Linked DNA regions of Homo sapiens. The protein of the gene in region 1 purifies or fractionates together with the protein of each later gene. This does not show direct contact. Each region holds a gene or a part of one and is shown in the gene's direction. Other genes may lie near its edges.

The links.
Region 2: the proteins of SLC6A13 (region 1) and SNX13 purify together in Homo sapiens (affinity purification with mass spectrometry; one large-scale study listed by BioGRID and IntAct). This does not show direct contact.
Region 3: the proteins of SLC6A13 (region 1) and ABCB8 purify together in Homo sapiens (affinity purification with mass spectrometry; one large-scale study listed by BioGRID and IntAct). This does not show direct contact.

The regions. Positions count from the first base shown.
Region 1 is NC_000012.12:252,730-256,378, reverse strand, and holds part of SLC6A13 (sodium- and chloride-dependent GABA transporter 2), read left to right. Parts: intron 1-2,631; exon of another isoform or gene 2,632-2,937; intron 2,938-3,649. UniProt on the Homo sapiens protein: Mediates sodium- and chloride-dependent transport of gamma-aminobutyric acid (GABA). Mediates transport of beta-alanine. Can also mediate transport of taurine and hypotaurine.
Region 2 is NC_000007.14:17,930,433-17,934,081, reverse strand, and holds part of SNX13 (sorting nexin-13), read left to right. Parts: intron 1-3,649. UniProt on the Homo sapiens protein: May be involved in several stages of intracellular trafficking. May play a role in endosome homeostasis. Acts as a GAP for Galphas.
Region 3 is NC_000007.14:151,041,885-151,045,533, forward strand, and holds part of ABCB8 (mitochondrial potassium channel ATP-binding subunit), read left to right. Parts: intron 1-76; coding exon 77-224; intron 225-2,086; coding exon 2,087-2,337; intron 2,338-3,324; coding exon 3,325-3,465; 3' UTR 3,466-3,649. UniProt on the Homo sapiens protein: ATP-binding subunit of the mitochondrial ATP-gated potassium channel (mitoK(ATP)). Together with pore-forming subunit CCDC51/MITOK of the mitoK(ATP) channel, mediates ATP-dependent potassium currents across the mitochondrial inner membrane.

The DNA.
Region 1 (3,649 bases):
TCATCCTACTGGCTTTATAATTTCCAGTCTCTTTCCATTGCCTCGGCGCATACTCAGCCAAGCCCTGAGCCTGTGTCATTCACCAGCAAATACTTACTGAGCACGTAGCAAAAGCCAGGAACTGTTCTAGGTGGTTGGGATACATCTATAATCAAAACGGACCAATTCCCTGTCCTCATAGGGCATACATTCTAGAGGAGGGAGACAGACACTACACAATAAATGGGATAAATGAGTAAATTAGGTAGCATTCCAGAATTAATGAGTGCTATAGAAAAAGAACAAGGAGAGCTGGGTAAAGGGGATCAGGAGTGTGGGTGTGGGTGGTGGCAATTTTTAAAAGGGTGGTCATTGAGAGCATGTGAGCAAAGCCTTGCCAGGAGTGAGAGAACTGGCCATGTGGATATTATGGGGTTGGGTGAAAGTGCTTTCCTCTAGGCAGAGGAAACAAAGGTTGAAACGAAGCAAGAGTCTGGCTGGCTTGTTTGAGGAGGACTCAAGCCTGGAGCTGGGCAAGTGAATAGAAGGTAAGGTCAGGGAAGTAAATGGGCTGGGGACAGGGAGAGGGGCAGATCAGGTATGTCAGGTTGGCCACTCTCAGACTTCAGCTTTTGCTCTAGTGACATTCAGATGCAGGGCAGGGTTTTGGGCAGCAGTAATCTCACATTATTTCCGCCCCCTCCAAGATGGAGTCTCGCTCTGTCACCCAGGCTGGAGTGCAGTGGCGTAATCTCAGCTCACTGCAACCTCTACCTACTGGGTTCAAGTGATTCTCCCGCCTCAGCCTCCCCAGTAGCTGGGACTACAGGCGCGCGCCAACACGCGCGGCCAATTTCTGTATTTTTAGTTGAGACGAGGTTTTGCCGTGTTGGCCAGGCTGGTCTCGAACTCCTGACTTCAGGTGATCTGCCCACCTTGGCCTCCCAAAGTGCTGGGATTACAGGCATGAGCCACTGCGCCCGGACAGTCATCTTACATTTTAAAATAATCTCTCTAGCTGGTATGTTGAGAACTGAGTATAGGGGAGTGAAGGCAGAAGCTGACTGGTTATAAGGCAAAAATCTTGGAGTCATCCTTAATTTCCTCCACCTCTCATAGCTCTTGACTCTACCCAAACACCCAGGTCCTGGGAGCTTCAGGACCTCTCCAGCTCCCTGGACCCTGGTTGCTGGCAGAGCGAGTAGCTCAGCACCCGAATGCCTGGGACTAGAGCCCCCGCGATGAGATGTGCAGGACCCGACCACTTCTCATCCCCTCCACTGCTAGCACCCATCTAAGCAATCCGAGAGTTTTCACCTGAGTGACTGGAAGGAAGGAGCTGCCATTCACTGAGACGTGGAAGGCCATGAAGGGAGCAAGGTTTTGTGTTTTGTTTTGTTGTTGTTGTTGTTTTTAATAGAGAGGGGGTTTCGCCATGTTGGCCAGGCTGGTCTCAAACTCCTGGTCTCAAGTGATCTGCCTGCCTCGGCCTCCCAAAGTGCTGGGATTACAGGCATAAGCCACTGTGCCTAGCCCCAGAGGAGCAGGTTTTGAAGGGAAAGTAAGGAGGTGAATTTTGGGAAAGTTGAGTTGAGGTATCTATCAGATGTCCATGTGGAAATGGCAACTGGGCAATAGAATGTGAGTTTGGGGTTTGTGAGAGAGATCTGGCTGGAGGTGTGTATTTGGGGATCATTAGCATTTTGATGGTATAAGAAAAGAAAGTAAGGACCTTTAGTGGGTCTGGGAGAAGATGGGAAACCAGCAGAGGAGACAGAAAATGAGAAACTGGTAAAGCAGGATGAAAACCAAGAGAATGAAGTGTTTTGGAAAGTCGAGTGAAGAAATTCTATCAGGGAGGAGGGAGAAATTAACTGCAGCAAAGGCTGCAGATAGGTTAAGAAGATGAGGAAAGGAAATTGATTGTTGGTTTTAGCAGCTGGGAAGTCATTGATGATAAGAGCGGTTACAGTGGAGGGCTGGGGACAATGACTGATTGAAATGGATTTAAGATAATGGGGGAGATGGGAGAAAGGAATTGGAAATAGTAAATGTGGGTTATTGGGGCAAAATGTGGGAGTAGGTAAAATCCACCCCTTCCTTGTGTATTTCCCTTCTGGGCGGAAGGGGGCCATGTGAGTCCTGCGTAGCAGTGACAGTGTGCCAGTGGCCAGACTCCTCGGGGGTGGGGCCCTGAGCTGGCGAGGCGGCTGAAGAAGCTTGACATTTGAACTATTCCTCCAGCCCTCCACCCTCAGCTGCCAGGAGGGAAAGCAAATACGATTTTCTACTAGGGCCTGCCCAGTTAAAGTTCCAGTCATGGGACGAGGAGATGCTGGATAACGCAGGAGGCGTGATGTGGGAAGAAGGTAGCGGGAGAGGGTTCTGGTCATAGGACTGTCCATAGCCAGCGGGGAATTTAAATCACCTTCCTGCCTATCTCAGCCCAGATGAAAAAACCGTCTGCCAACATTTTCACTTAATTTCTAAGTCCAGGTTGCTGAAATTTCACTCGGGGCAGAAGTTACCCGTGCCAAGAACCTTTTAAGTTTTCCACTAGTCTCAGGACACCAGCTGGAGACCATCTTTTGCGAGGACTTCCTCCCTGTCCCCTCCAACTCCTCTTCAGAGCCTCAGTCTTCCCATACCTAGGTCCTGGGTGCTTCAGAACACGGGCCTTCAGCTGAGACCTCTCCAACTGCCTGGACCCTGGCTGCTGGCAGACCAAGTTGCTCAACACCCAGAATTAACTTGGGACTGGAGTCCCCATGTGAGGCCACGACAGGAGGCACACAGCAGGACCTCTCAGAAGGGCCTGGAGGGGAAAGATCCCTCAGCTCCAGCCTGTAAAGAAGGTGCACTGGGATGCCCACACAAAGAGGATTCCCTTGGCAGCAAGGAAAACCATTAGCCCTGTGCTGTTTATAGATAGCAGAGAATAAAGAGAAATAAGAAGCACTGTTCGTGTGTTCATATAAAAGTAATGGTTAATTTAGCAGTGAGTGACAGTGTGTTACCAAGTGTAGTTAATGACTCAGGGCCCACTGTTGGTCAGGCTCATGCCGAGGACAGCACATAACTCCTCATGGAAGCTCCTCGCTCTTCTGTTGCTCAAGTGGAAGATCGTCAGTTTATGCCGTAAGAAATTGGCTGGAACGTTACAAGTGACACCACAGAGCGTGCTCCTTTTGAGAAGGGGGGCCAAGAGAGTGATTGCTTTCTGGGACGGGGATATGGTCTCTCCTATCTCACGGAGAAAATGCCAGCACATTTTAGAATTTTTGAGGAGACTAGTATGGATGATATGGGGGTGCAGGTTACTGTGAACTCCACCCCCCATCCCCAGGACTAACTTCATCTTTTGATGGTGGTACCTGCGGAGGGGAAGAGGCAGAATGCCCTTCAGCACTCCTCAGTCCGTACCTGGCCCCCTTGGCTCCCTCCCACCCCGACCCCTCTCACACTTCTAGGGCCTGTAGCCCCTCCTTGCAGGTGTGGACTTTGTCCCTCTTGGCAGGCTGCCAAGGAGCTCAACGAGGCAGAGGAAGGAGGTGGGAGCAGCTGACCACGGGGCCCAGAGTTAAACATTGGCTTGGTTTATAGAGAAAGAGCAGGAAGCATGAATATGGGAAGGGGCTTGGGCTGGGCCCATAGCTGTTTCTTTCTGGAC
Region 2 (3,649 bases), on another chromosome or scaffold:
TGTGTCTATCAACAAATTATACATATGGCAACACACAAACCTGTATGTTAAGCACTATAAGGGATGAGTCTCAACTTTATCACTTATTTATGATGGGATTTTGGGGAACTAGTTTGAACTTTCTAAGCTTTTAATTTCCTTCTGTGTAAAATTGGGGTAATAGCACCTTTCTTGCTGTTCTTACATTGTTATGAAGATCATATAAGATGATGGAGGGTATAACTTTGTAAATTGCCAGTCATTATAGAAATAGTGGTAGTACATCGGGTTTTTTTTTTTTTCTGTATATTCCTTGTACTAATGAATGTAAATCCTAGGCTCCATGTAGTTTTATTGCTCACTATTTTCTTGGTGGATAGGTGGGTGGGTCCTGAGGGGAAATTAGGAGGGGAGTCTCCTGGCTAGTGGTGCAGTTACAGGGGAGACAGGGAATAGACTAAAAGAAGTGAAAGAGAAAAAAGGGGATAGTTTCTTGTGTGGTTGGTAAACCGATTTCAATGAATGCCTTAAAGCAAGTTCTCTCTTTTTTTTTTTTTTCTGAGACAGAGTCTCGCTCTGTTGCCCAGGCTGGAGTGCAGTGGCGCGATCTCAGCTCACTGCAAGCTCTGTCTCACGGGTTCAAGCGATTCTTTTGCCTCAGCCTCCTGACTAGCTGGGACTACAGGCGCGTGCCAGCACGCCTGGCTAATTTTTTGTGTTTTTAGTAGAGACGGGGTTTCACCAGGTTAGCCACGATGGTCTCCATCTCCTGACGTCATGTTCCGCCCGCCTCGGCCTCCCAAAGTGCTGGGATTACAGGCATGAGCCACTGGGCCCGGCCGCCTTAAAGCAAAGTTCTAAAAAATGTTTTGAAAAAGATGATTTATTTGAGGGTTACCAGTCATTTGTCTGTACATATTCCCAAACATTTGTGGGAAGAAAAATCTTTTATTTTTAATCAGACTTGGTAAATCCTTGAAAAGCTGTTATTAAGGATAATGTTTATAAGGCTTTTGTTATAACTCGTGCTGGAGATTGATTTTTATGGATTGATTTCTTCACCAAACAAGAGTATGCCTACTTTGTACTAGGCACATGCTGATAAGTTCTAGTGTTGAAGTGGTGAGTCAGTTGGGAAACCTGTCCTCAGAAATCACTATCAGCGCTAAATTTAGCATTGTACCACTTAGGCCATCAAAGTGGGAGCCTTGAGGTCTTTTGTCAGAATAAAATGATACCACTAAAGGGTGAAAAGTTAAGAGGGGAAAAGATTGGAGAATATAATTAAAAGATAACTGTGACTTGGGTTAGCTTTACAACTCCTGGTAAATCTACTAGTTTGGATGAGACAGCAGCTCTGAAATGGATTTCTTGCAATTGAAGAGTCAACCTGGTGAAAGTAGTACTTGATCCTGCTGTTCCCACCTCCATGTGTTATGTATATATTTATTTGCTTGTTACATGTTTTTCCCTAATAGAGTAAACTCCTGAGGATGGGCCTCATAGGTGTACTCCCAGAGCCTAGAATAGAGCTTGATACTTAGTAGGCCTCACTAAATATCTGTTGAATGAATGAATGTTGAATATTTCCTCAAGAAAAATTAAGATTAAAGTGAAAAATTACGGAGATGAAATTGTCAGTGATAAATTTAAACCATCATATTAATTACCCTTAAAGGATTGGTTACTATCTGTTCATTAGACATTTTATATAGTAAGTACATTGTGGTTAAATATTGTGTTTAAGAGCAATGGGACAAAAAAAAGTTGAACCTGAGGCTTTTAGTTAGGAATGAAATTCTGTCTTAATTTTTCCTACAGGGAAAAATCTGATTAGGTTGTTACTTTGATATAACCAATTATAAATGCAAGAGGGACTTGGATTTTGTTTTGTATCTCTTACTACTTGATATTATGATTTCATTAATATTACTTAAAGTTTAATTCCTAAACTAGATACATTTAAAGAAAGCTTTGTCTGTAATAGTACAATAATGCTGATTTTCATGGCACTTTGTTGACTGTTTCAATTTGTATGACCTTTGATGCTATCTTGAAAGTTTGTAAGTATCAGTAAAAATTTGGCCGTGGTTTCAAAGTTGGAAATTTTGGGGGTCCATTTTTAAGGAGGGCAGCTGCTACCACAGTCTCTTAACTAAAATGCGTCTCTGTTCAATGTTGGAGACAGAGTACTGTTATGTCGTTTGCCCATCTGTAATTCCACTGTATATTCAGAAATAATATATACCAGAAAAGTTCAATAAGATGATTCTGCTCTGTTCCACTGTTCAAGTAGAATAATGGTCTGTAAATATACTTATGAGAGGATCATGTATATTAACTGGAATAATTCACCATTGTTTACTTATTGCACTGTTTTCTCTGATTTCCTAAGGGATCTTTTTATTCTGATGCATCTGTGAAGACCCTAAGGTGAATCCAGCTTTGCTCTTGACCTTAGCTGTGCATTGTTGGAGAATCCTTGGTTCTTATTCCATTTAAACCTGAATTGGTATTATACCTGAAATTTGGGGGCTATTTTTAGCCTGACTGGCTTAGCATAGGAAAGAGTTGTGATTCTTTGTTTTGTGATTTCTTTTATTTTCGAGCTAGAGTTGTGGAGAATGGCCTTTGGATTCATTGTCCTGTGAAGTTTGGAAATTATAAAACTGAAGTTGTACAATTTTAGTGGAAGAGTTAAATGTGAAATAAAATTTCACCGTATTTCTGTTATTACATAAATATTAGGAAATAATGTTCTGACTTTAAGATGTGATATTGTGTTATCCAGTGTTTCTCCAAGCTGTAATATTGTATTTTGCAATTTGTTCTCTTCCAGAGTTTGAGATAGCTTGTTTTCTCAGAATTTTTCTCAGCTGAGAAACACAACTGGTGTTTAATTCAGACTGCAACTATTAATATAATCAGCTATTTTACATGTGGTATTAATTACTAACATCTGATCTTTTTCTTGTATGGTACCCAACTGCTCAACACTTAAAGTATTGCAATAGTGTTAATCCTGGTGGGAGTCAGGAGAGTAAAATAAATGGGCTACAATGACAGTCTCCAGCCTTTTTGGCACCAAGGGACCGGTTTTGTGGAAGACAGTTTTTCCACGGACGGCTGTTGGGGGGAATGGTTTCGGGATGAAACTGTTCCACCTTAGATCATCAGGCATGAGAGTCTCATAAGGAATATGCAACCTAGATCCTTGCATGTGCACTTCACAATAGGGGTAGTGCTCCTATGAGAATCTAATGTCCCAGCTGATCTGACAGGAGGCTGAGCTCAGGTGGAAAAGCCCACTCCCCGCCACTAACCCCTGCTGCTCACCTCCTTCTGTGCGGCCTGATTCCTAATGGGCCATGGACCTGTAATGCTCTGTGGCCCAGGGGTTGAAGGGCAGAACACCACAAAGTTACAGGAAAAGAAACTGAAATAATATACTTTCCAAATAGTGAGTATTGGTTGCATAAAGGTTTAGAAAAACCAAGTAGACTTGAGAGTATTTTATGATGCATTAAAAATGTATTTTATGAATCTGAAATTCCAGAAATTAATAACAGCAGCTCAGAATATTCAATCATATAATAGGCACTAACACAAAATTTATGTGATGATGAAAGATTATCTTTATACTAGGATTCAGTGTTAATCATCTTTTTTA
Region 3 (3,649 bases), on another chromosome or scaffold:
GTATGGTGGCCCCTCCAGTTTCTGGGGCAAAGAGAATGTTTCTATGGACTCTGTCTCCATAACCCCTCACCCACAGGAGCCCGTCCTGTTTGGGACGACCATCATGGAAAACATCCGCTTTGGGAAGCTGGAAGCTTCCGATGAAGAGGTGTACACAGCCGCCCGGGAAGCGAATGCTCACGAGTTCATCACCAGCTTCCCCGAGGGCTACAACACGGTCGTCGGTGGGTGCTCGGGTCTGCCGGGAACCAGGTGGTGAGGCACTGGGACACAGGATTCCACAGGAGCAGTGAGCAGCCCAGTGGGACTGAGGGCAGCAGGGACAGCTGGGGAGAAAGACAGTTGTGTCAGGGAAGACGAGAACCACAGCCAAAGGGGACAGAGTCGTTGTGTGGGGACAGGGGAGTCCAGGCCAGTGTGGTTCAGAACCAGCAGACCAGGCAGGCTGCAGAGACAGGACGGGCTCTAGGAGGAGCTGGAGAATGCGACAGAGGGCATATGACAGGCTCCTGGCCAGGGACACAGTGATGCATGGTGTTTGGAGTCCTCACCGAGTCTAAAAGGCCGCCACTTCCCCAGACTGAACAGAAGAAATGGGGGGCTGCCTCCTCTCCACCATCCATCCCCCTCTGGCTCCTGTTTCCTTCCTGTGCTTTTCATCTCTAAAGTCGTTTCTCATTAGAATCGGGGTGACTGGATGGGCCCCAGGAGAGGGCTCTGGTGGTTCTGAACTAGGAACACGCAGCCTGGCACTGCAGGGCGTGCACCTTGCAGCTTGACGTGCGGAGCTCCCAGGTCTTTTTCCAGCCTTCGGGGCCATGTTTCTCGGCCAGTGTCTTGGCTCTGTTGCACAGTGTTTCAGCACTTCTCAGGATACAGGGATACCTGGGCTTCTCAACTCTGGTCAGTCTGAGTCCAGCCTTCTGAGCTGTGGGGCCAGTGTCCCCAGCCCAGCCATCGTGTTCTAGATGGCTCCTCCAGCCGTGTTGATACACTGTCCAGATGCCAGCTGTCCTCACTGGGTGCTCTCCCACATCTCTTTTGGGTGGCACTTTCCTTGTGTCTCTGATCCTAGTACTTTCTGCTCATTTGGGCCTTCTTGGGGCTGCGTCCTTACTGACCTGTCACCCTGCTGTCACCTTGAGGTTCTTTTTGGCTCCCAGGCTGCCACTTGTGCTGTCCTCTGTGGGCTTCGAATCCCACCTCCCTGGAGTCACTGGACCCCAGAGCCCATGTTTGGGTGCTGGATGTTCCCCACAGCCACAGAGACCCGGGAGGCTGGGAAGGTGGCTTGGAACTGCAGGCACAGGGCAGGGTGTGGGTCATCCTGGCCTGAGGCACTGCCATGGCTGGGGAGGGGCATTTGGCAACTCCCTTGGAGTGCACCAAGCCCTGCTGGCGGTGTCACACCACCCTCAGAGGCAGGGCAAGTGTGCACAGTGGCTGAGGGACCCAGAGGTGGGATGAGCCAGTGCAGGGGGAACCCAGAGGAGGAGTGTACACAGTGTGGGGTGGGGGGTCAGAGGCAGGAGGAGGGTGCACAGTGCGGGGTGGGGGTCAGAGACAGGACTAGGGTGCACAGTGCGGGGTGGAGGGTCAGAGACAGGACTAGGGTGCACAGTGTGGGGTGGAGGGTCAGAGACAGGACTAGGGTGCACAGTGCGGGGTGGAGGGTCAGAGACAGGACTAGGGTGCACAGTGTGGGGTGGAGGGTCAGAGGCAGGACTAGGGTGCACAGTGCAAGGTGGAGGGTCAGAGGCAGGACGAGCGTACACAGTGCGGGGTAGAGGGTCAGAGGCAGGACGAGGGTGCACAGTGCGGGGTGGGGGGTCAGAGGCAGGAGGAGGGTGCACAGTGCGGGGTGGGGGTCAGAGGCAGGAGGAGGGTGCACGGTGTGGGGTGGGGGGTCAGAGGCAGGAGGAGGATGCACAGTGCGGGGTGGGGGTCAGAGGCAGGAGGAGGGTGCACAGTGCTGAGAGGGGCACTTAGAGGATCTTGATGGGCGTTCAGGAAGGACCCTGTGCCCCTTTGTGGGCCACCCTCAAGTGCACAGCTTCAGGCTCCTGCCCTGCCCCTCCCTTCCCAGGTGAACGGGGCACTACCCTGTCTGGGGGCCAGAAGCAGCGCCTGGCCATCGCCCGAGCCCTTATCAAGCAGCCCACGGTGCTGATACTGGATGAAGCTACCAGCGCGCTGGATGCAGAGTCCGAGCGGGTTGTACAGGAGGCCCTGGACCGGGCCAGTGCAGGCCGCACGGTGCTGGTAATTGCCCACCGGCTCAGCACTGTCCGTGGGGCCCACTGCATTGTCGTCATGGCCGATGGCCGTGTCTGGGAGGTTAGTTGTCCTGGGGGCGTGGATCAGTGGGTTGAGGATGGCTTCATCACGGACAGTGGCACAATGCTGCAATGAGTTATATGAAGTTGTGGCCTGGCCCCAGGGCCTTGGGGGCTATATTCTGGAAGCAGCGTCCCATATAGAGTCAGGAGTTCCTGCATTCAGCCAAGCCCTGGCCTCTCAGGCCCTCAGTTTCTTCTTCTGTCCCCTGGGATAGTATAATTGCACCATCAGCTCCCAGGATCAAAAGGAAAAGTACTAGCCGGGTGCCTGTAATCCCAGCACTTTGGGAAGCCAAGGCAGAAGGATCTCTTGAGGCTAGCCTGGGCAGCATAGCGGGACCCTGTCTCTACAAAATACCAAAAAAAAAAAATTAGCCGGATGTGGTGGCATGCACCTGTACTCCCAGCTACTCTGGAGGCGGAGGCGGGAGGATTACTTGAGCCCCAGAGGTTGAGGCTGCAGTGAACAATGATTGTGCCATTGCGCTCCAGCCTGGCATCAGAATGAGACCCTGTCTCAAAAAACAAAAAGGAAACATACTCAGAGTATGGTGCTGGGAGCAAGGAGCAGGGCTAGCTGCCCAGGGTATCAGGTGCAGGAGAAGCAGCGCCAAGGAACCTGTGCAGGGAGTCAGGAGTAGGACCCCAGAGGCCGTGTGGCGTTGGCTAACAGCCACTCATTCAAGCCAAGGCTGAGGGGCTCGTGCAGGGAGACGGATCCTGAGTTGGAGCCTTGGGCTCTGTAAGGGGGACAGAGGGAATCATGTTCTTCCAAAATTCAGCTAAGTAAGGAAGTGGCAGTAACTAATGCAGCATGCCAGTGGCGGTTCCTTTCAGATTGGGCATTGGTTTCAGAGTGTCCCCAGAAGGGACACCGGCCTAAGTGACCATGGGCCCAATGGCTGATAGAGAGGCTCAGCTCTCTGAGGGTTCTGAAGCCTGCATGCCTTGGAGCAACCATCCGCCCTTCCCTCCCATCTTCCAGGCTGGGACACATGAAGAGCTCCTGAAGAAAGGCGGGCTATACGCCGAGCTCATCCGGAGGCAGGCCCTGGATGCCCCGAGGACAGCGGCCCCACCGCCCAAAAAGCCAGAAGGCCCCAGGAGCCACCAGCACAAGTCCTGAGAAGGGCCCCCTGAGGTGTGGTCGCTGCCAAGCATCAGTGTTAGGGCTGGGGCTCAGCCTGGGGGAGCCTACTGGGGACTGAGCCCCCAGGAGGGCCAGCATGTGGAGAGTCGCTGCGGCTGCTCCTGCTCACAATAAAGCCGGGGCCGAGCAGCTGGCAGGGGAGGCCAATCCCTCCCTCCCC